Homo sapiens: one gene and its partners. The protein of the gene in region 1 purifies or fractionates together with the protein of each later gene. This does not show direct contact. Each region holds a gene or a part of one and is shown on either strand. Other genes may lie near its edges.

The links. Proteins that work in one complex are often made in the same cells at the same time.
Region 2: the proteins of PCDH10 (region 1) and SLC30A7 purify together in Homo sapiens (affinity purification with mass spectrometry; one large-scale study listed by BioGRID and IntAct). This does not show direct contact.
Region 3: the proteins of PCDH10 (region 1) and SHMT1 purify together in Homo sapiens (co-immunoprecipitation; one large-scale study listed by IntAct). This does not show direct contact.
Region 4: the proteins of PCDH10 (region 1) and ARL17A purify together in Homo sapiens (affinity purification with mass spectrometry, with the first as the bait; one large-scale study listed by BioGRID). This does not show direct contact.

Annotation. Positions count from the first base shown.
Region 1 is NC_000004.12:133,186,457-133,191,795, forward strand, and holds part of PCDH10 (protocadherin-10 isoform 1 precursor), read left to right. Parts: intron 1-3,684; coding exon 3,685-3,704; 3' UTR 3,705-5,339.
Region 2 is NC_000001.11:100,906,090-100,910,508, reverse strand, and holds part of SLC30A7 (zinc transporter 7), read right to left. Parts: intron 3,658-4,419; coding exon 3,544-3,657; intron 1-3,543. UniProt on the Homo sapiens protein: Zinc ion transporter mediating zinc entry from the cytosol into the lumen of organelles along the secretory pathway.
Region 3 is NC_000017.11:18,349,132-18,353,550, forward strand, and holds part of SHMT1 (serine hydroxymethyltransferase, cytosolic), read right to left. Parts: intron 1-4,419. UniProt on the Homo sapiens protein: Interconversion of serine and glycine.
Region 4 is NC_000017.11:46,575,973-46,581,120, reverse strand, and holds the start of ARL17A (ADP-ribosylation factor-like 17-like), read left to right. Parts: upstream 1-1,429; 5' UTR 1,430-1,520; intron 1,521-4,781; 5' UTR 4,782-4,798; coding exon 4,799-4,946; intron 4,947-5,148.

The DNA of each region.
Region 1 (5,339 bases):
GAAATCCTCCAAGCATGCTTTGATAATTCCAAAACATACATAGAATATATTAGAAAGCATAGAGATTCTCTGTGTATTTGACTCATTCTGTCAAACCTAAAATGCATCAGCAAATATATAGCCATGTTACTTAACACTGGAATAATTGTCCTGGTACTGGCTCTAAAATGTCATCAATTAATATTTTTTTTGTGGGGAGGGTCAGATAATATTTGCTTGCTACTTGTCCAACATTAGGCCATACAACCCTAAAAGAATAATAGGTTTTGTTTGTTTTTTGAGGCAGAGCCTTGCTCTGTCTCCTAGGCTGGAGTGCAGTGGCAAGATCTCAGTTCATTGCAACCTCCACTTCATAGATTCAAGCAATTCTTGTTCCTCAGCCTCCGAGGTAGCTGGGATTACAGGCCTGTGCCACTAAACCCTGCTAACTTTTGTATTTCTAGTAGAGATGGTCTTTTGACATGTTTGTCAGGCTGGTCTCAAACTCCTGGGCTCAAGTGATCCGCTCGCCTCAACCTCCCAAATTGTTGGAACTACAGGCCTGAGCCACCGTGCCCAGCCAAGAATAATAGTTATTCAGTGTTTAAACTCAACCCGTAGAAGGTTTGAAATAAAGCGGATGTGACTAAAACTTTAGTAATAGTATAAACTATTTCTAGGTTGGCAGGATTTTTGGCTCCTCTGTATCCTTGGGCTCCTTGTCTGTGGATTCAATCAACTGTGGATTAAAAATATTTGGAAAAAAGTCCCACAAAGTTTCAAAAAGCAAAACTTGAATTTGCCATGCACAGAGTACTGCCTTGAATTTATGTGAATGAAGTGATGTGCCTGGTGTTAGGCATTATATTAGATGTTGTAAGTAACCTGAAGATAATTTAACATATTTAGGAGGACATGCATAGGATATATGCATACACTACAGGCCATAAGGGACTTGAGCATCCTTCGATTTTGGGGGCAACCTGGAAACAGGCCCTCACAGACACTGAGGGATAACTCTTCATAAATGTAAGATTAGCTTCTTCTAACATGGAGGAAATCTTCCTTCCTCAATCTAATTAATTCTGACCTTCGGAACTTAGATCAGATCTAAGTTCAGATCTTATATTTGTCCTATCCAAATCTGCATTACTGAATTAACACATAGGTGGGAGGAAGTAAATTTAATAATAGGTGATTATATTATTCAGACAACAAGTACAATAGGTGAACTTTAAAAAAGAAAACACGTAACTCTAAGCAGCAATTAAAAGATGTCTTTTAAGTTTATGTTTATATTTAAGATATTGAGTATAATGTGTGCTAAGCTTCTGTGTTCTTAAAACTGTGAACCATTTTAATAATTTCTTTTATTAAAAAGAAACAATTTCTGTTTGTATCCTAACTAAATCAAGTGAACACATAATATTTATGTTAATGGCCTTTAAGCCATAAGAACTAGAAATGATATTTTTATTACTCTAAACATATGCTATGTTGACTACTTTCTGAATTTATACTAAAACATAGTTTTTCAGTATATTAGTTTTTTGACATAATGAATTAGTTATAGGTTGACTATAGGTCACTCCTGAGTTTCTTTTGTTCTTGAACTAAGAAAAGAATGTTTCCTCTAAATCAGCATTTTCTGATTTTTACTATTAACAGGAAAGGCCCCAACCCAGCTTATTTTGAAAGGAGTAATATTATTTGTCGGTGACAATATTTTCCTGGGTTGTCCAGAAAGCACAAAATCTTTTGTAATTAATAATAGTGTTTCTTTTCACTCACCAGTGGGTCCAGTTTAGACAACAAATTATTTGGTGACCGTAATGATTTGCTCTGATTTGTTTTATAAACTTGGACTTCTAAGGTTTCACTATTCTAATTTATTGTATAATTTTCAATTCTGATTGGTGTAAACAAATTTGTTTGAATTATTTCACATATAAGTTTCTCATGAAACAGTTTGAACTCAAGGACACAGAAAAATAGGATTTCATTCTATTAAAATAATAATTCCGTTTACTTGTAGAATATTCTCTGGAATATTATGACCTGGTTATAATGACTACCATATATTGTATCGAATTCATTTTATTCTTCTGGATATCATACATTACAAAATATGTTCTGATTACTTTCAATACTAGTTATTATACTACACAATACATGTAGATACTTATTTTCACTTTCATTTCTGTTGATGATGGTGCCTGACTGCTATGGGTTTTTTTTTTTTTTTTTTTTTTTTTGAGATGGAGTTTCGCTCTTGTCTCACAGGCTGGAGTGCAATGGCATGATCTCAGCTCACTGCAACCTCTGCCTCCTGGGTTCAAGCAATTCTTCTGCCTCAGCCTCCCAAGTAGCTGGGATTATAGGCGCCCACCACCATGCCAGGCTAATATTTTGTACTTTTAGTAGAGACAGGTATTCACCATGTTGGCCAGGCTGGTTTCAAACTCCTGACCTCAGGTGACCCACCCAACTCGGACTTCCAAATTGCTGGGATTACAGACGAGAGCCACCACATCCGGCCGACTGCTATGGTTTTGATTGATGTGCCTGCTAAATGGTGAACTAGTAAAGAACTGTTTCATGGTCAGAAACTGAGCTTTTGAGGAAAAATAAATTAGGATAAATAGATAATTAGATAGTCTTGAAATGAGTTGAAATACCAGAGAATAAGGTTGAGAAGATCAACATGTTCTTATCTTTGTTTAAAAAAAGCAACCATTTATGAGATTAAAATAATTGTTTTGCTATTTAATGTACTTTGTAACTTTTAATGAGATATGTGAAAATTTAATCTAAATTCAACTAGCTTTATTTTCAACACATTTTTGTTATATGTCTGTTATGTGCCATATACTGATAGATATGATGCAACTTCTGCTCTCATTGTGCTTATGGTCAAATATTACAAAGTTTATGGATAAGGGAAGAAATATTATTTATCATTACAAATAAACAAAATACTTAAAATTATGAAATCTGGGCAATCAAATCTGGGCATTCTGCTTTGTAATTTAATATATTTTATACAACTAGAGCAAATTTGATAATATCTTTCTCCCCTTTGCCTTTATTAATTCCTTTATGAGAAAATGGATTCTCATAGTAAGAATACTTTAAAAAAATGTATGGGCCATAAAAATACTTGGTTTTAAAATTTTATAAATGAGATTAAATAAACCTAGAAAATGTGAGTCATCTTTAAATTATTTAACTACATAAACACTTTCTGGTACAGTTTTCCATAATAAATATTGGTTTAATATGTATAATTTATAGTTTATGAAATTAAATATAAAACAAGTTATTTATAGATTTTGCTAGAAACTTTTTCTAGAAATGTAAGGGCCACACATTTTTTTCTATACTCTGTGCATAAATAGTGAAGTGTAGGGATTGTTTTATGTAGATAACTTTAAAAAGTTAATCTTCACAAATTTCATCTTTGGTATATAAAATGTACATTTCCCATGCAAAACTAATTTATAAGAATATCAAAATTATCATTCTCAGAAAACCAAACAACAGAATGGCTGTGACTACTAGCAGTGAAAAAGTTTGACACTACATGTGTTTGGTATGAGGGTACAACTAGTTTCTAACTGTATTCTTTCTTTTACAATAATGTGTAATTCTAAACTCCAAAAGTCAACCTCTTTTTCTTAGAGTATTTTTCTTTCTTTTTCACAGCACGGAAAAGGATATGCTAGTCAATTCTACAGGACTTACCTGAAGCAGCATGATTTGCACAAAGTCGACCAACAAAAGCATCAACTTTTCAACTTCATTATCTTGGCCATCCAGTTAGTCATGTGTAACTGAGTATTAGATTTCGGATGGAGTCATCATGGCCAATTATAGGACCTAATTGCTCTCAGCAGGCCTGAGAAATGAGTTGAAATGTGCAGAACTGTAGAAACTTTAGAGGCAACAGATTTTGCCTCCCCGATCAGTGTGTGCCTGTTTACAGCACTATCTATCTTTCTCTCTCCAAATGTCACTGAGCCCTTTAGATGTTTATATTCACCACGAGAAGCCAGTCATAAAGATAAAGGAAATTTGTGCATTATAAATGCAATATCACTGTTTTAAACTTGACTGTTTTATATTATTTTTGTGTGATCAAGTGTTCCGCAAGCTATTCCAACTTTACAAGAGAAATTGTGATTATGTTCTTTTCACCTGTGGGTTATAAAAAATGTTGTATTCTGAAGACCCACAAAATATCAAAGACATTCTGTAGTTTATACACCGTGTTGCAAAGTGTTTACTGTACTATTTCAAAGCTTCTAAATAAATATAAAATATATATATTATATTATATAATTTTCCTAAAATGTGGTACAACTCAGTTGGTTTTTAAATGGATGCATACAGTCCACATCATACAATAAAATAAAAGGTAATTCAGGGTCCCAAAGACAAACTTACTAAGAAAAAATCATTAATAGTTTTCTCCCAATTTCCATATCTTACTCAACCGTGTTTTTCCTTGTTTAAAAGAAAATGATGCTCTAAGCTACAAAATTTTGTCAAAAACTCATATTGAATTTTCAATGCCAAAGATGTAGCTATTGATGTTATCAGACAGAGCACTGACTATGTACTATCAAACTATCTAACAATCTGCATAAGTCTGATTCTATTTCTATGACTTTGAATTTAGAATCACTTAAAGCTTTTATAAAGAATCGATAAATTCACCTGTATTTGTTGTTAGAAAAAAACTGGGTGTCTGTACATTTTGTGGTGTAAAATATGTAATTGAAGATTACTATTTTAAGAAGTCATCAGTCATATCACTCACACAGAATTTTATTTTACATAGTTTTGTGACTTAATTACACATGAATATAAAATCTATAATTCTATATGAATATATAGAGATATAGAAACATCTGAACTGGTAAAGAATAACTATAAAATATGAAAGCTCTAAATTTAAAATAAATTTAGAGATAGAATCATGGTACATTATTGTTTCAGTATTCCATGTGAAAATTTTATAGCTTAAATGTAGTCAGTGTTTGATTAATGAAAAAATTCTTCATGAGTCAGCCTTCAAAAGTTAAGCTTGCCTTTTACTTTTATGTCAACAATATTAATTATTAAATTTAGTAAGACGCACTTTCCTTTCTTTTATATATTTTTTCTACTGTTGTGTATGCCTTGTTAGAACACATTCGAGAGAGGAAAAAAATCAGAGAATATAAGATAATCTTTCAAGCAAAAAACAGAATTGTCACAGCTCCCCTCGCCCTCTAAACTATGATATCAAAACATCATATCAAAGCTTCAACATTATATCAAAATGTTTGCCCAGTTCAAATTAGAAACCTGTTTTG
Region 2 (4,419 bases), on another chromosome or scaffold:
TTCTAAGATTAATAAATCTAGCATAAACTTTCAATTACCTATTTTTAGAATCAATTTTAGCTTCACATAATTCTAATTAAACTATTTTTAAAATACCTGTCTTTTGTTCCATTGAGTTCTGAAGCTTTCTGCTTCCTACCTGTGTGAAGCATTGGGGAAAGATTTTATTTTTCTGTATCGTATATTTGGCTTAGTTAAAGTCATCAGAAACAACTTTAACTTAGCATTTTTACATGTTCAAACATCATTCAAAGGGTGCTAACAGCAATTAACCACTCTGGTCCTTAAACAATATAATGAGAGCATCAAAACTCGTGCTTTTCCTAGGTTTCTATGTTAACTTCTAGGTAATAACGATTTTTACTGTAAAAATATTTTTAAAGAGAATTCTTGAAAATGTACTCTATCAAGTTATGTTGGAGTTTGTCCTGTCAAGTGCATTCCAACATAGTATGTATTTCTATGCCAGAAATAATGCATATTTCTATCTTCTAACACATCCAAATAACGTATTACTTGTCAAAACATATTTTTTTTTCCTGGAGAAAAGTTCATTAAATTCAAATAATTTGCAACCAGCATTCCACAGCCTACACTTAGGAATTTATCTAATAAATCAGCAGGGTTACTATCCAAAAGTAAAAAGTATTTTCTTTTAATCTACCCTTGTAGTCCCATAACTAATGCTTGACTGAAAACCTTTTGTGCTTGACTTCTACCAGATTTCAAGATCAAAGGCAAGAATGTTTTTCAGGCATCTTTTTGTTTCTAATTCCTAGCTTAGTAGGTGTGCTATCTAAGTTCAGATAAAATGTTGGAGTGATTTAATTAGCTTGAGTTTAAGATATATTTGTTAAACTTGGTTGTGGGCTCAAAACAAAAACACATGAAAACTAAACACATTTGCCTTTACAAATATCTGTGTTTACTTAACAGATTGAGTAGGTCTTAGAATTAGAACATGTAATTCATGAATGTGCTGTTGCCTAATTAAGTATGGCTAGTGTTTAGATTCTTGAGCCAGGAAGAAAAATAGAAAAGATTTAAGTATAGGTACATATGTATATACGCATGTATGTATGTATCTATCTACCTACTGGATGTATATTACTTTTAAGCTGTCTTTGCTCTTTAAAAAATAAGAGTGTGGCAAGACACAAAGATGACTTTTATATAAAGAAATACTTAAAAGTCCTTGCTTGCTCTCATATTCCCCAACTCTTTCTTCTATTGCAGAGTCAGTCAGCTACAGCAGTCATCCTGAATTGGGGTGGGAGGTTATGAGAATTCAACCCTATGCTTAACATGAATTAATCAGTGTCATTTTGATTCACTGACACCAGTAGTTTACAAATGAAGCTACTTATTACTATACCAATTATTCATAGTGTTAAATATTGTACCAGCTTTTATTCTTTAATCTTTCCCAAAAGAAAACACACACACACACACACACACACACACATAAAGAGAGGAGAGGATTAAATTAAAGGTGGAAAGAATATTATTCTCTTACATCAACTAGCTAAAGCTGAACATTAAAATCTGCTATGGTACTGAAGGTATTCAAAGCTATTTCTAAAAACCATTTTAGAGCAGGAGACAATACATTCTAAATTGGAAACAATAGAAAATCTAAGCGTTAAAGAACTGAGAATTTTCAATAGTCAGCTACTGTTTATTCAGAAAGATTGTAGAATAAGCTATTCTAATTAGATTTCTGATATATAATATAAATAAATTACTAATTTTCCAACAAAAATTATAACTTTGGATATAATCTTTCTTTAATAATCTAAAATATACTTAAGAATCTTTTAGTAGCTACTGTTTAAATTATTTGCATATCACCAATATCATGCCATAAAAAGCGTTCTTATCTGAGCTGTCAAGCTGTTTGAATTTATAGATATATAGGATCTACTGCTCTATACTATAAAATGTACAATGAGTATTTTTTGGCTCACTTTTTATAATTTCAAAAATAACCATATCCCTTGCTTATAACTAAAATCAGCAAGTTCTGCCACAGAACTCCACATCTCCTTTTTGGCAACTGTCACAATATATAGCTATTATTGTATTTTTACAGAACTGTTTGCCCAAGAGACAAGTTCCGGCAAGGCAGGAGGCATGTTTTTACATCATTAGATCATTTTTACATCATTAGAACTAGAAAAGTATTTGACTCATATGGACCCTCAATAAATATCTAAACAGAACAAGAGCATGTGAAAGAAAGAGTGTGTGCCTGCTAAAGAAAGAAGCCAAGCCAGGGAGAAAGGGGGAGCAGTTAAGGACAGAGAGTAAAAGACATAACAAGAGGCCTAAGAGACAGTACATGAAAGAAGATGGCTGTAAAAAGGACAGGGAGAGAGTGAGAGAAACTGCACCGGAAAGGGAGAGCTCAGGGAAGGAGAATCAGTGAAGGAAGGAAAGAGAGACTTGGAAAGGGAGACAAAAAAGAAATAGAGCTAAAGAAGTTAAGAGAAGAGGAGGAGGAGAGATTGAGCCTGACAGATAAAGGGTTAAAAGGTAAAGGAAAAGAGCAGGAGAAAACAAAGAATAAGACAGGAAAGGTATAGGGGGACAGAAGAAGGAAGAGAGAGGAAAAAAGAGCATGAGCACAAGCCCAAGCGACAAGAAGCAAAGACAAGAGAAGGAAAAGGGAGTTCAGGAGAAGATAAGAGAGAGTAAGAGGCTGAGGAAGGGAACAAGAGTGAGAGACAGAAAATATGAGAGACAGATGAAGAAGGAAGAGAATGTAAAAGAGCACTCACAGGGGAAATGAAGAGAAGAGGAGGAAAAGGACAGAGGGGAAGAATTAGTAAGAAAGCAGAAGAGAGAGGGAATAGGAAAGACAAAGGGGTGGGGAAGAGAAAGAAACAGAGTATGCATCCTGAGCTCTGCTTACACATATATATAGCTATACTGCAAAATATTCTATGAACTCAAAAAAGGAAACACTCAGGCAGTGTAATCAAATAATGAAAAATCCACTGCTTCCTCCAATCAGAGGTGGCAGAAATCAAATTATGCCTCTAAGATGATCCAATGTAGTCCCTTCAGCATACAGATGCTCTACAAATATTTGATTAATTGTCCAACTCGGCAAGCATATAAGAACTGTTACATAAAAGCAGAGCTAAAGAACATAATATAAAACCATATTAGAAAATGATTTTAAATAAATCAACAGCAAAGTATCCATTCAAAAAGAAAAAAGCAAAAGCAAAAAAAAATCCTATTTTCATATACTAAAACTTTCTTCTTCAAAAAAAAGTTGAGAAATTCCTCTATATGGTAACAATCTCAACAAATTACTGTAGATTCCAATTATATACTATTCAAAAACTCATCCATGAAGTCATGAAAGTGGTTACCCTTGGGGAGGTAGGAACTCGAAGAGGCCTGAGTGGGGGCTTCAAAGATTCAAAAGTTACACCTGTGTTCAATTGGTAACAAGTCACTGAGCTTAAGATTAGTGTTTTTTTGTGTATATCTTATACTTCAATAAAAAGATTTTTTTTCTTAAAGTCTTACCCATAGGAGAAAGCATCATTATCTCTCCATTTTGAAATAACAGAAGCTGCCAGTCCAGCCAAAATGGCAGTGCTATCGAAAAACATGTGAAAAGAGTCGGAAATCAAGCCTAAGCTGGAAAAGAACAAACACATTGACAAATTATAATAAAAACCAAACAGTAGGCATCTTTCTCTGAAAGTCTAAGATTCAGCCTTTGTTCATCAGGAATTAACCATCTAAAACAACAATTTAAATATGCTATATAGATAGCTTTGAGGATAAGTTTTAAATATCTAAAAAGTAAACCCTCGTACCTCCTGCACAAGGAAAAGCCCAGCTGCTGCGAGAGAGGTAGAAACAAAAACCATCTGCTGCTGGGTGAGGGGTAGGAATGTGACCACTCCTTGGTCACTTGCAAAGGTCAGCTGCCACTGAAAGAGAGGTAGGAAAAAAAAAGCCATCTACTACTGGGACGAGGCTGATACCTGCTTGCACCCAGGATCTTACAAAGCAAAGGTCTGCTTTTGTTGAGTATCCTGCTCCACCCTTTTGATACCAGGCTGAGGACAGTGGGGACAGGCTGGGAGAGAGGGAGAGCGGCAAGATCATTAATACTCACCCTGACACTGAGGTGCACAGGCTTGCCTGACTAGGGATACAACAAGAGAACCTAGTCCCACCCTCCCCACCAAGTCTTGAATAAAGTATAAGGAACAGCAAACTACCAGTGAGAGCACAAAGAGATATGTGCAGAACTTGCTAAAAGCTGAGAGTGGAGCAAGAACCCTGAAAAAATCCTGCAGTACTCCAAATCCAATACTAATCACAAAGTAGTAGGAACCACTGAAAAATTCAAAGACTGTGATTTGTGGAAATCAGCAATAACAAAACACA
Region 3 (4,419 bases), on another chromosome or scaffold:
AGCTTAGGCTGGGCATGGTGGCTCACGCCTGTAATCCCAGCACTTTGGGAGGCCGAGGTGGGCAGATCACCTGAGGTCAGGAGTTCCAGACCAGCCTGGCCAATATGGTGAAACCCCGTCTCTACTAAAAATACAAAAATTAGCCGGGAGTGGTGGCGGGTGACTGTAATCCCAGCTGCTCGGGAGGCTGAGGCAGGAGAATCTCTTGAACCCAGGAGGTGGAGGTTGCAGTGAGCCGAGATCGCCCCACTGCACTCCAGCCTGGGCATCCCAGCAAGACTCAGTCTCAAAAAAAAATTTAAAGTAACTACATGCAGTGGCTCATGTCTGTAATCTCAGAGATTTGGAAGGCTGAGGTGGGAGAACTGCTTGAGGCCAGGAGTTCAAGACCAGCTAGGCAACATAGTGAGATCTCAGCTCTACAAAAAATTTTACAAATGAGCTAAGTATAGTGGCTTGCACCTATAGTCCTAGTTACTTGGAAGGCTGAGGTGGGAGGATCACTTGAACCCAGGAGTTGGAGATTGCAGTGAGCTTTGATTGTACCACTGCACTACAGCTGGAGCAACACAGTGAGACCCTAACTCTAAAAAAAATAAATAGGCCGGGCCCGGCGTAGTGGCTCACATTTGTAATCTCAGCACTTTGGGAGGCCGAAGTGGGCGGATCACCTGACGTCAGGAGTTCGAGACCAGCCTGACCAACATGGAGAAACCCCATCTCTCCTAAAAATACAAAATTAGCCAGGCGTGGTGGTGCACGCCTGTATTCCCAGCTATTGAGGAGGCTGAGGTAGGAGAATTGCTTGAACCTGGGAGGCGGAGGTTGCGGTGAGCCGAGATTGTACCATTGCACTCCACCCTGGGCAACAAGAGCAAAACTCTGTCTCAAAAAAATAAAAATAGATAAAAAATAGGCCGGGCACGGTGGCTCACGCCTGTAATCCCAGCACTTTCGGAGGCCGAGGCGGGCGGATCACGAGGTCAGGAGATGGAGACCATCCTGGCTAACATGGTGAAACCCCGTCTCTACTAAAAAATATATAAAAAATTAGCCGGGTGTGGTGGCGGGCGCCTGTAGTCCCAGCTACTCGGGAGGCTGAGGCAGGAGAATGGCGTGAACCCGGGAGGTGGAGCTTGTAGTGAGCCGAGATCGTGCCACTGCGCTCCAGCCTGGGCGACAGAGTGAGACTCCGTCTCAAAATAAATAAATAAATAAATAAAAAATAAATAGGCCAGATGTGGTTGTTCACACCTGTAATCCTAGTAATATGGAAGGCTCAGGTGGGAAGACTGCTTGAGGCCAGGAGTTTGAAACCAGCCTGGGCAACACAGCAAGACCTCATGTCTATTAAAAATTAGCCTGGTGTGGTGGCACGCACCTGTGGTCCTAGCTACAGAGAGGCTGAGGCAGGAGGATTGCTTGAGCCCAAGAGTTTGAGGCTGCAATGAGACGAGATTGCACCACTGCACTCCAGCCTGGGCAAGACAACGAGACCTTGTCATTCATTTATTCACACATACATAACATTTTGTTTTAAACCCAGAACTTTGTTTTTAGGTTTGTATCAAGCAAAGTCATTAACGTTAGGTCAACACTGTTTTCTTTTTTTTTTTTCTGAGATGGAGTCTTGCTCTGTCTCCCAGGCTGGAGTGCAGTGGTGCGATCTCGGCTCACTGCAACCTCCGCCTCCCAAGTTCAAGCGATTCTCCTACCTCAGCCTCCAGAGTAGCTGGGATTACAGGCACGCACCTCCACACCCAGCTAATTTTTGTATTTTTAGTAGAGACAGGGTTTCGACATGTTGGCCAGGCTGGTCTCAAACTCCTGACCTCAGGTGATCCACCTGCCTCAGCCTCCCGAAGTGCTGGGATTACAGGTGTGAACCACCACGCCTTGCCTATTGTTTTCAAATATTGCCTTTGATTTTAAATAATGTTCCAAAGGTAGATTAATATTAAATTATATTAACAAAATATAATGAAAACATGTAATAATTACCTTTTATTTTTATTTTTATTATTTTTTTGAGACGGAATCTCACTGTCACCCAGGCTGGAGTGCAGTGGCGCGATCTCGGCTCACTGCAAACTCCACCTCCCAGGTTCACACCATTCTCCTGCCTTAGCCTCCCGAGTAGCTGGGACTACAGGCGCCAGCCACCACACCTGGCTAATTTTTTTGTATTTTTTTTTAGTAGAGATGGGGTTTACACCGTATTAGCCAGGATGGTCTCGATCTCCTGACCTCATGATCCACCCAGCTCGGCCTCCTAAAGTGCTGGAATTACAGGCATGAGCCACCACGCCCAGCCAATAATTACCTTTTAAAAGAGCCCTTTAATTGGCTGGGCACAGTGGCTCACGCCTGTAATCCCAACACTTTGGGAGACAGAGGCAGGCGGATCATGAGGTCAGGAGATCGAGACCAGCCTGGCTAACACGGTGAAACCCCGTCTCTACTAAAAATACAAAAAATAAATAAATAAATAAGTTAGTCGGGTGTGGTGGCACGTGCCTATAGTCCCAGCTACTTGGGAGGCTGAGGCAAGAGAATCGCTTGAACCTGGGAGGTGGAGGCTGCAGTGAGCCGAGATTGTGCCACTGCACTCCAGCCTCGTGACAGAGCGATACTCCGTGTAAAAAAAAAACAACAAGCCCTTTAACATGAATAAACGATGTAATTACACTTCTATTTAAGTTGTGGTTTTTCGGGGTTTTTTTTAAATTTAGAAACAGGGTCTCATTCTGTCACCCCAGCTGGAGTGCATTGGCAAAATCATAGCTCACTGCAGCCTTTGATCTCCTGGGCTCAAGCGATACTCCACCTCAGTTTCTTGAGTAGCTGAGACTACAGGCGCATGCCACCATGTCCGGCTAATTTTTAAATTTTGTTTTGGAGACAGCGTCTCACTATATTGCCCAGGCTGGTCTCAAATTCCTAGCCTCAAATGATCCTCTGCCCTGGCCTCTTAAAGCACTGGGATTACAGGGGTGAGCCACTACACTCAGTCCCCTTCTTTTTTTTTTTTTTTGAGACGGAGGCTCGCTATCGCCCAGGCTAGAGTGCAGTGGCGCGATCTCGGCTCACTGCAAGCTCTGCCCCCTGGGGTTCACGCCATTCTCCTGCATCAGCCTCCCACGTAGCTGGGACTACAGGCGCCCGCCACCTTGCCAGGCTAATTTTTTGTATTTTTAGTAGAGACGGGGTTTCACCGTGTTAGCCAGGATGGTCTCGATCTCCTGACCTCGTGATCCGCCCGCCTGGGCCTCCCAAAGTGCTGGGATTACAGGCGTGAGCCACCGCGCCCGGTCCCCCTTCTTAAAAATGTAGAAAACATCACCCCTTGCTCGATACATTGCTGTGAGAATCGAATGAAATATTAGTTTTGAAAACACCTGGTGTGGACCGGGTGCAGTGGCTCACAGCTCTAATCCTAAGCACTCTGGGAGGCCAAGGCAGGTGGATTGCTTGAGCTCAGGAGATGGAGATCAGCCTGGGCAACAACAGCCTGGGTGAAACTCTGTCTCTACAAAAAATTAGCTGGGTGTGGTGGTGTGTGCCTGTAGTCCCAGCGACTCAGTAGGCTGAGGTGGGAGGATGGCTTGGGTCCAGGAGACCAAGGCTGCAGTGAACCTTGATCACACCACTGCACTTCAGCCTGGGTGAGAGAAAGACCATGTCTCAAAAAAGAAGAAAAAAAAAAAGAAAACACCTGGTGTTAACAAAATACCTTAGCCTGAAAGAAGAAAGAAAGGAAGGAAAAAGAAAAAGAAAGGAGAGAGAGAAATAAAGAAAACACCTGGTGAATTCTTTAAGGCACAATGCAAAAGTTAGTTATTCACAATAGGAGAAAGACAATGCCTTCAACTTGATTCTCAGTCTTCTACATAGAGCTTCAGGGGCATCTCAGGACAGAATGGCAATTCCTTCTCCAAGGGTGACCTTTCTGTTTCCTTTGGGACAAAAATGCACACATTTGCAAAAGCCATGTCTAATTCTGTAATTTATTTTCTTTGCCTGATGATGACTGTAAAAAACAAAAACGAATATAACACTGTAATTCTGAGGGTGAAAGAGTCAACTGAAAGCCACTGCATGTGTAAATCCAACATTTATAATGCAGAAACGGTTTTCAGTAATCCAGATTCAGCCTCCACTTCCACACCATTCCCAATACAGACTCGATGACTCACATGGCAACGGCCACCTTCTGCAGCATCCCTCAGATGACACTGACCTTTTCTAGACAGAGGCCACACACCAGTCCAGTGGCTCAATACTCCTTACAAACTGGCCTGTTTTTCTAGAAAGCCCCCAAAGAACTGTGAAATGTGCCCCTGAGTACACCTGCGCTGAGCTCTTCAGTGTTATCACATGCTGGGAATAAAAGAGTTCTGTCAGAGAGCAGGCGTGGAA
Region 4 (5,148 bases), on another chromosome or scaffold:
TTTCTTTTTTTTTGAGACAGGGTCTTGCTTTATCGTCTAGGCTGGAGTGCAGTGGCACGATGTTGGCTCACTGCAACCTCTGCCTCTCAGGTTCAGGCAATTCTCCTGTCTCAGCCTCCCAAGTAGCTGGGATTACAGGCGTGTGCCACCACGCCCGGCTAATTTTATATTTTTAGTAGAGATGGGGTTTCTCCATGTTGGTCAGGCTGGTCTCGAACTCCCAACCTCAGGTGATCTGCTCGCCTCGGCCTCCCAGTGTGCTGGAATTACAGGTGTGAGCCACCACGTCTGGCCAGGGATAATAGTTTGTAATTCACTGGGCGTTACGGTCCTGCAGGTAACATTGTTTTTCTTATTTATTTATTTATTTATTTAGTCAATTCTAGCAGTATCTTCTAACTTTTTTTGTTCGTGTTTTTTGAGACAGGGTCTCGCTTTGTCACCCAGGCTGGAGTGCAGTGGCGTGATCACGGCTCTCTGCAGCCTCTACCTCCTGGGCTCAAGTGATCCTCCTGCCTCAGCCTCCCGAGTAGCTGGGACTACAGCCGCTACCATGCCCGGCTAATTTTAAATTTGTTTTTTTTTGCAGAGATGGGGTTTTGCCATGTTGCTCAGGCTGGTCTCGAACTCCTAGCTCAAAGCCTTGGCCTTCCAGGCGTGAGCTACCGCGCCGGGCCTGCTGAAGTTCTTGATATAGTTTCTGGCACATAGTATATGTTTAATAGATGTTTGTTGTTCTGATGATTTCAGTTATGTACCATTTACAGGCGTTTGTAACCTTTTTAGCTAACAAGTTGGGCATTTAGGGAACTGACTATAGAAAGCATTTCTCGGAAACGAGGACTGGTTCTGCGACGTCTTAACGAGGTGCGGGTGGCCAGTATTTTCCCCAACTTGAAAATCTGTGTAGAGGTGGGAGGGCAGTCTAGCCTCAGGCGGAATAGGAAAACTTCCTTATGCCTAATTTCAGTGTCAGTGTGTGGTATTTCCTACGCGGAACACCGCCCCAAACTAATGTCTACGTTTAACTCAACCGCGGTAAATTTCCTTCCATGGCACTATTAACTTGGCCCGGCCCACATGTCCCCTCCCGGTTGGTGTGAACGCTCCGAGGTTAGCTCAAACCTCGGCGATTTTCCCAGCTGATTGGCCGTGCAAATAGACAATCCTTTTGCTTTTCTGATTGGTCGCACATGGCATCGGGGGTGGGGGACGTGGGCGTGTCTCGCCAGAATTCGTTTAACTGTGATTTGAAGATGAACATGGTATTGCCAGAGCTTCATGGCGTCGCCTACGGCGCTCCCTCCCTCCCAGGCCCTTACTCTTCTTTGCGTTGGCCAGATATGTCGTCACTCACAAAACTTCGAGCTCATTGGTGCAAAAGCTCCAGGAGGCGGTGGGTGATTGGTTGGTTGCTGTTCCTGCCCCCACGCCTGTCGTGGTTTAGCTGAACTGAGCTGAAATCCTAAAGGCCGCGGAGTCGGCGGTGTTGTAGGTAGCGGTACCTTGAGTGGCAACAGGTGAGTCTCCGGCTGCAGGGATGGGGCGGCAGCACTCAAGACCTGGCTGGATCTCCACTTCGTCTGCGGGCCAGAAACTGGAGGGCGGCGGTGGCTTTCGGAAAGGGATTGGGCTCCGCTGTTCCTTCTTCGCCCTCTCTAGGGCCGGAGCAGCGAGGAACCGAAGGAGGCTTCATAGGTTCCACGCAGGGCCCTCTCTTTGCTCTTCCAGGGGCGCACAAGTTGAGAAGGAGCGGCCTGGCAGCCGGGGCAAAAAAGGGGCGTCTTTCCCCGGGAGCCGGGCGTGCCTGGCTGCCGCGCACGCTCACCTGGGCCACCACGCTTGTTCGCGCCCTTGACGTCGTGCCGACGTTTCTCCCTAATGCACTTTTGGCGCTTGGGGCTGGGAGACTGAGCGTGCCAAAAAGGCCCTGTAGTCGGAGCCATCTTACCTTAGAGGGGTCTCCAGCGGCGCAGGGGTGTCAGGACCACGGGCGCCTGGGGCACATGAGTAGCAATAAGAGGAAAGAGAAGGGAGAGGGAGGTCAAGGTGGTGTGTCTGTGCGGTTGGCAGGGGGAATTGGGACTAGCTGCCTCAAGGGGCATCTGAGCGGGAAGTACCTTCCCTCCCCCAGCATGTTCCTGAAAAGTCTCCTCATCTGTGAGATTTGTTTTTCGAAACAAAGAAAAGGAATCTCTAGTTTTGTCGCCCGGCAAGATTTTGAGTGCTGCAATGCACTGGACTTTTATAGACCTATAATGGACTTTCTTTGAATGATTAAAACATTTATCATTCTTTGGTCACTTACGCCACATTTGTGAACAGGATAAATTCTGTGCTCGCTTTCTCTCATCCTAGAAAGGAATGTTGTGTACTTGGGCGTAATCCATGATATTAAGCTACTGCTGGCCACTGTTGAATTTCAGCGGTGAGGCCTGTGGAATTTGGTTACCTCCGCTCTGTGGTTACCAGAGTCCGAATGAATGGGAGATTGGCTATCCTCCTTGTGTCTTCCTCCTCCCCTGCCCAGGAGTAAAGCTTTCTTTGGTTAGCAATTTAAAAAGAAAATAAATCACAGTCTCTGGAACAAGGATGTATGTCTTTTTCTTTTTGAATTTTTTTTTGTTTTATTATTTTTAAAAATAGAGGCAGGGTCTCGCTATGTTGCCCAGGCTGGTCTTGTACTCCTGGCCTAAAGCAATCCTCCCTTGTCTTCTGTTATCTCAGTAAGCAAAAACTAAAGTGACCCTCTTGCCTCAGCCTCCCAAAGTGCTGGAATTACAGGGGTAAGCCACCCTGCCTGGTCTGAAGATCTTTACAGACTTCCAAGAGCTTAGTTAGAGGTGTAGACCCAGCACTGCTTGTAAGTCTTTACTTAGAATGTCAAGCTCACATTTCAAGTAGGCTGATCTCAAAGAGACTGTAAATTTCTGTAAGTTAGTCTGACTTTACTATTGACTTACTTTATATAACCTACCATGATTTCTACTGAAAAATAAAATATTGAACATTTATGCTGTTAGAAGTCAATATAGTGATTACCTTTTATGGAGTAATGACTGGGAGGAGGCACAAGGAGAATTGGTCTGATAATCATTTTTTTTTTTTTTTTTTTTTGAGATGGAGTCTCACTCTGTTGCCCTGGGCTGGAGTTCAGTGGCCCAATCTTGGCTCACTTCAACCTCCACCTCCCAGGTTCAAGTGATTCTTGTGCCTTAGCCTTCTGAGTAGCTGGGACTGCATGTGTGTGCCACTACACCTAGCTAATTTTTGTATTTTTAGTAGAGACGGGGTTTCACCATTTTGGCCAGGCTGGTCTCGAACTCTTGACCTCAGGTGATCCACCCACCTTGGTCTCCCAAAGTGTTGGGATTACAGGCATGAGCCACTGTGCCCAGCCTGATAAATCATCTTTTCTTGATTTGGTTACATAGGTGTGTTTGGTTCATGAAAATGTATTGAACTTTACAGTTATCATGTATGTTTATATCTGTATGTAAATTATACTTAAATAAAAAGTTCTAAGAACTGGTTGAGAGTAAGGTGATAGTTACAGCAATAGAACACTGGATACTGGCTGGGCCTGGTAGCTCACGCCTGTAATCCCAGCACTTTGGGAGGCTGAGGTGGGAAGATCACTTGAGCCCAGGGGTTCGAGATTAGCCTGGGAAATATAGTGAGACCTCATTTCCACAAAAAATACAAAAATTAGCTGAGCGAGGTGGCGTATGCCTGTGGTCGCAGCTGCTCCAGAGGCTGAGGTGGGAGGATTGTTTGAGATGGGGAGGTTGAGGTTGCAGTGAGCCGTGATTGTGCCACTGCACTCCAGCCTGGGTGACAGAGCGAGACCCTGTCTCAAAACAAAACAAAAAACTCAAACGAAAACTGGATGCTGTGGTGCCTCCTCAACTCTGCCAAGTTATCTCTCTTGGCAGTGAAGCTTCCCAACGCTGAATTTCTTTGCCTCTGAAATTTCTTAGGTTATTTCCAAGGTGTCTGCTAGCCATAAGGAACTACTACGTTTCCAAGGGATATTGTTGTTTAACCTGTCTTAAAGACTTTGTTTTATATTGCATAAAATAAAAAGCTTCTCTGTTTCATAAATTCTCATTTCAGTAGAATTTAGAATGAGGTATAGTTGTATTTGTTGTATCATTGCTTCTGTACTTGTTTTTTAAAAAAAATTAATTAATTAATTAATTTTTTGAGACAGTCTTGCTCTGTTGCCCAGACTAGAGTGCAGTGGCGTGGTCCTGGCTTACTGCAACCTCTGCCTCCCCAGGTTCAAGTGATTCCTATGCCTTAGCATCCTGAGTAGCTGGTACTACAGGCGTGCACCACCGTGCCCAGCTAATTTTTGTGTTTTTAGTAGAGACGGGGTTTCACCATGTTGGCCAGGCTGGTCTTGAACCCATGACCTCAGGTGATCCACCCACCTTGGCCTCCCAAAGTGCTGGGATTACAGGCGTGAGCTACCGCACCTGGCCTTGTACTTCTGTACTAAATGACTAAAGGCTGCCACTGTCATAGCAGTGCTGAGGCTATGTTGCATATCCCTCTTGGATGCTGCAGTGGAAAATAGAATTTTCTGGTAAGGCATGGAAAGGTTTAGTTGAGTTTCCCTTTGAAGACAAGACTCACTACTCATTGGCCAAAGTGTACCTAAAATTGTTGAATTTTTCCTGGGAGCCATTTCTAATTGACACTTGTATTTTCTGCGTGTTGCTTCTATATCTCTGCAGAGAACAATTATTTGGCTTGCTTTTCTTGTCATGTTACAGAATTCGATTAAATTACAATGGGAAACATTTTTGAAAAGCTCTTTAAAAGTCTACTTGGGAAAAAAAAGATGCGGATTCTTATATTGAGTTTGGATACAGCTGGAAAAACCACCATCTTGTATAAATTGAAGCTGGGGGAGACTGTGCCTGCCGTCCCTACAGTAGGTAAGTTAATGAAAGACCTGTGGCAATTCCAGTTTACAATTTAGTATGTTATATATATTTTTTAGGTTCTGTTTCACCAGAGAAATATGTTTTATTTTTACATGCTTCTTATGTTATTGAATAATTCTTTTTAAAAATCTTGTCTACTCCATGAGCATACATTTTTAGAGGCCAAAAACCAGGTTATATATATCCTTTTCTT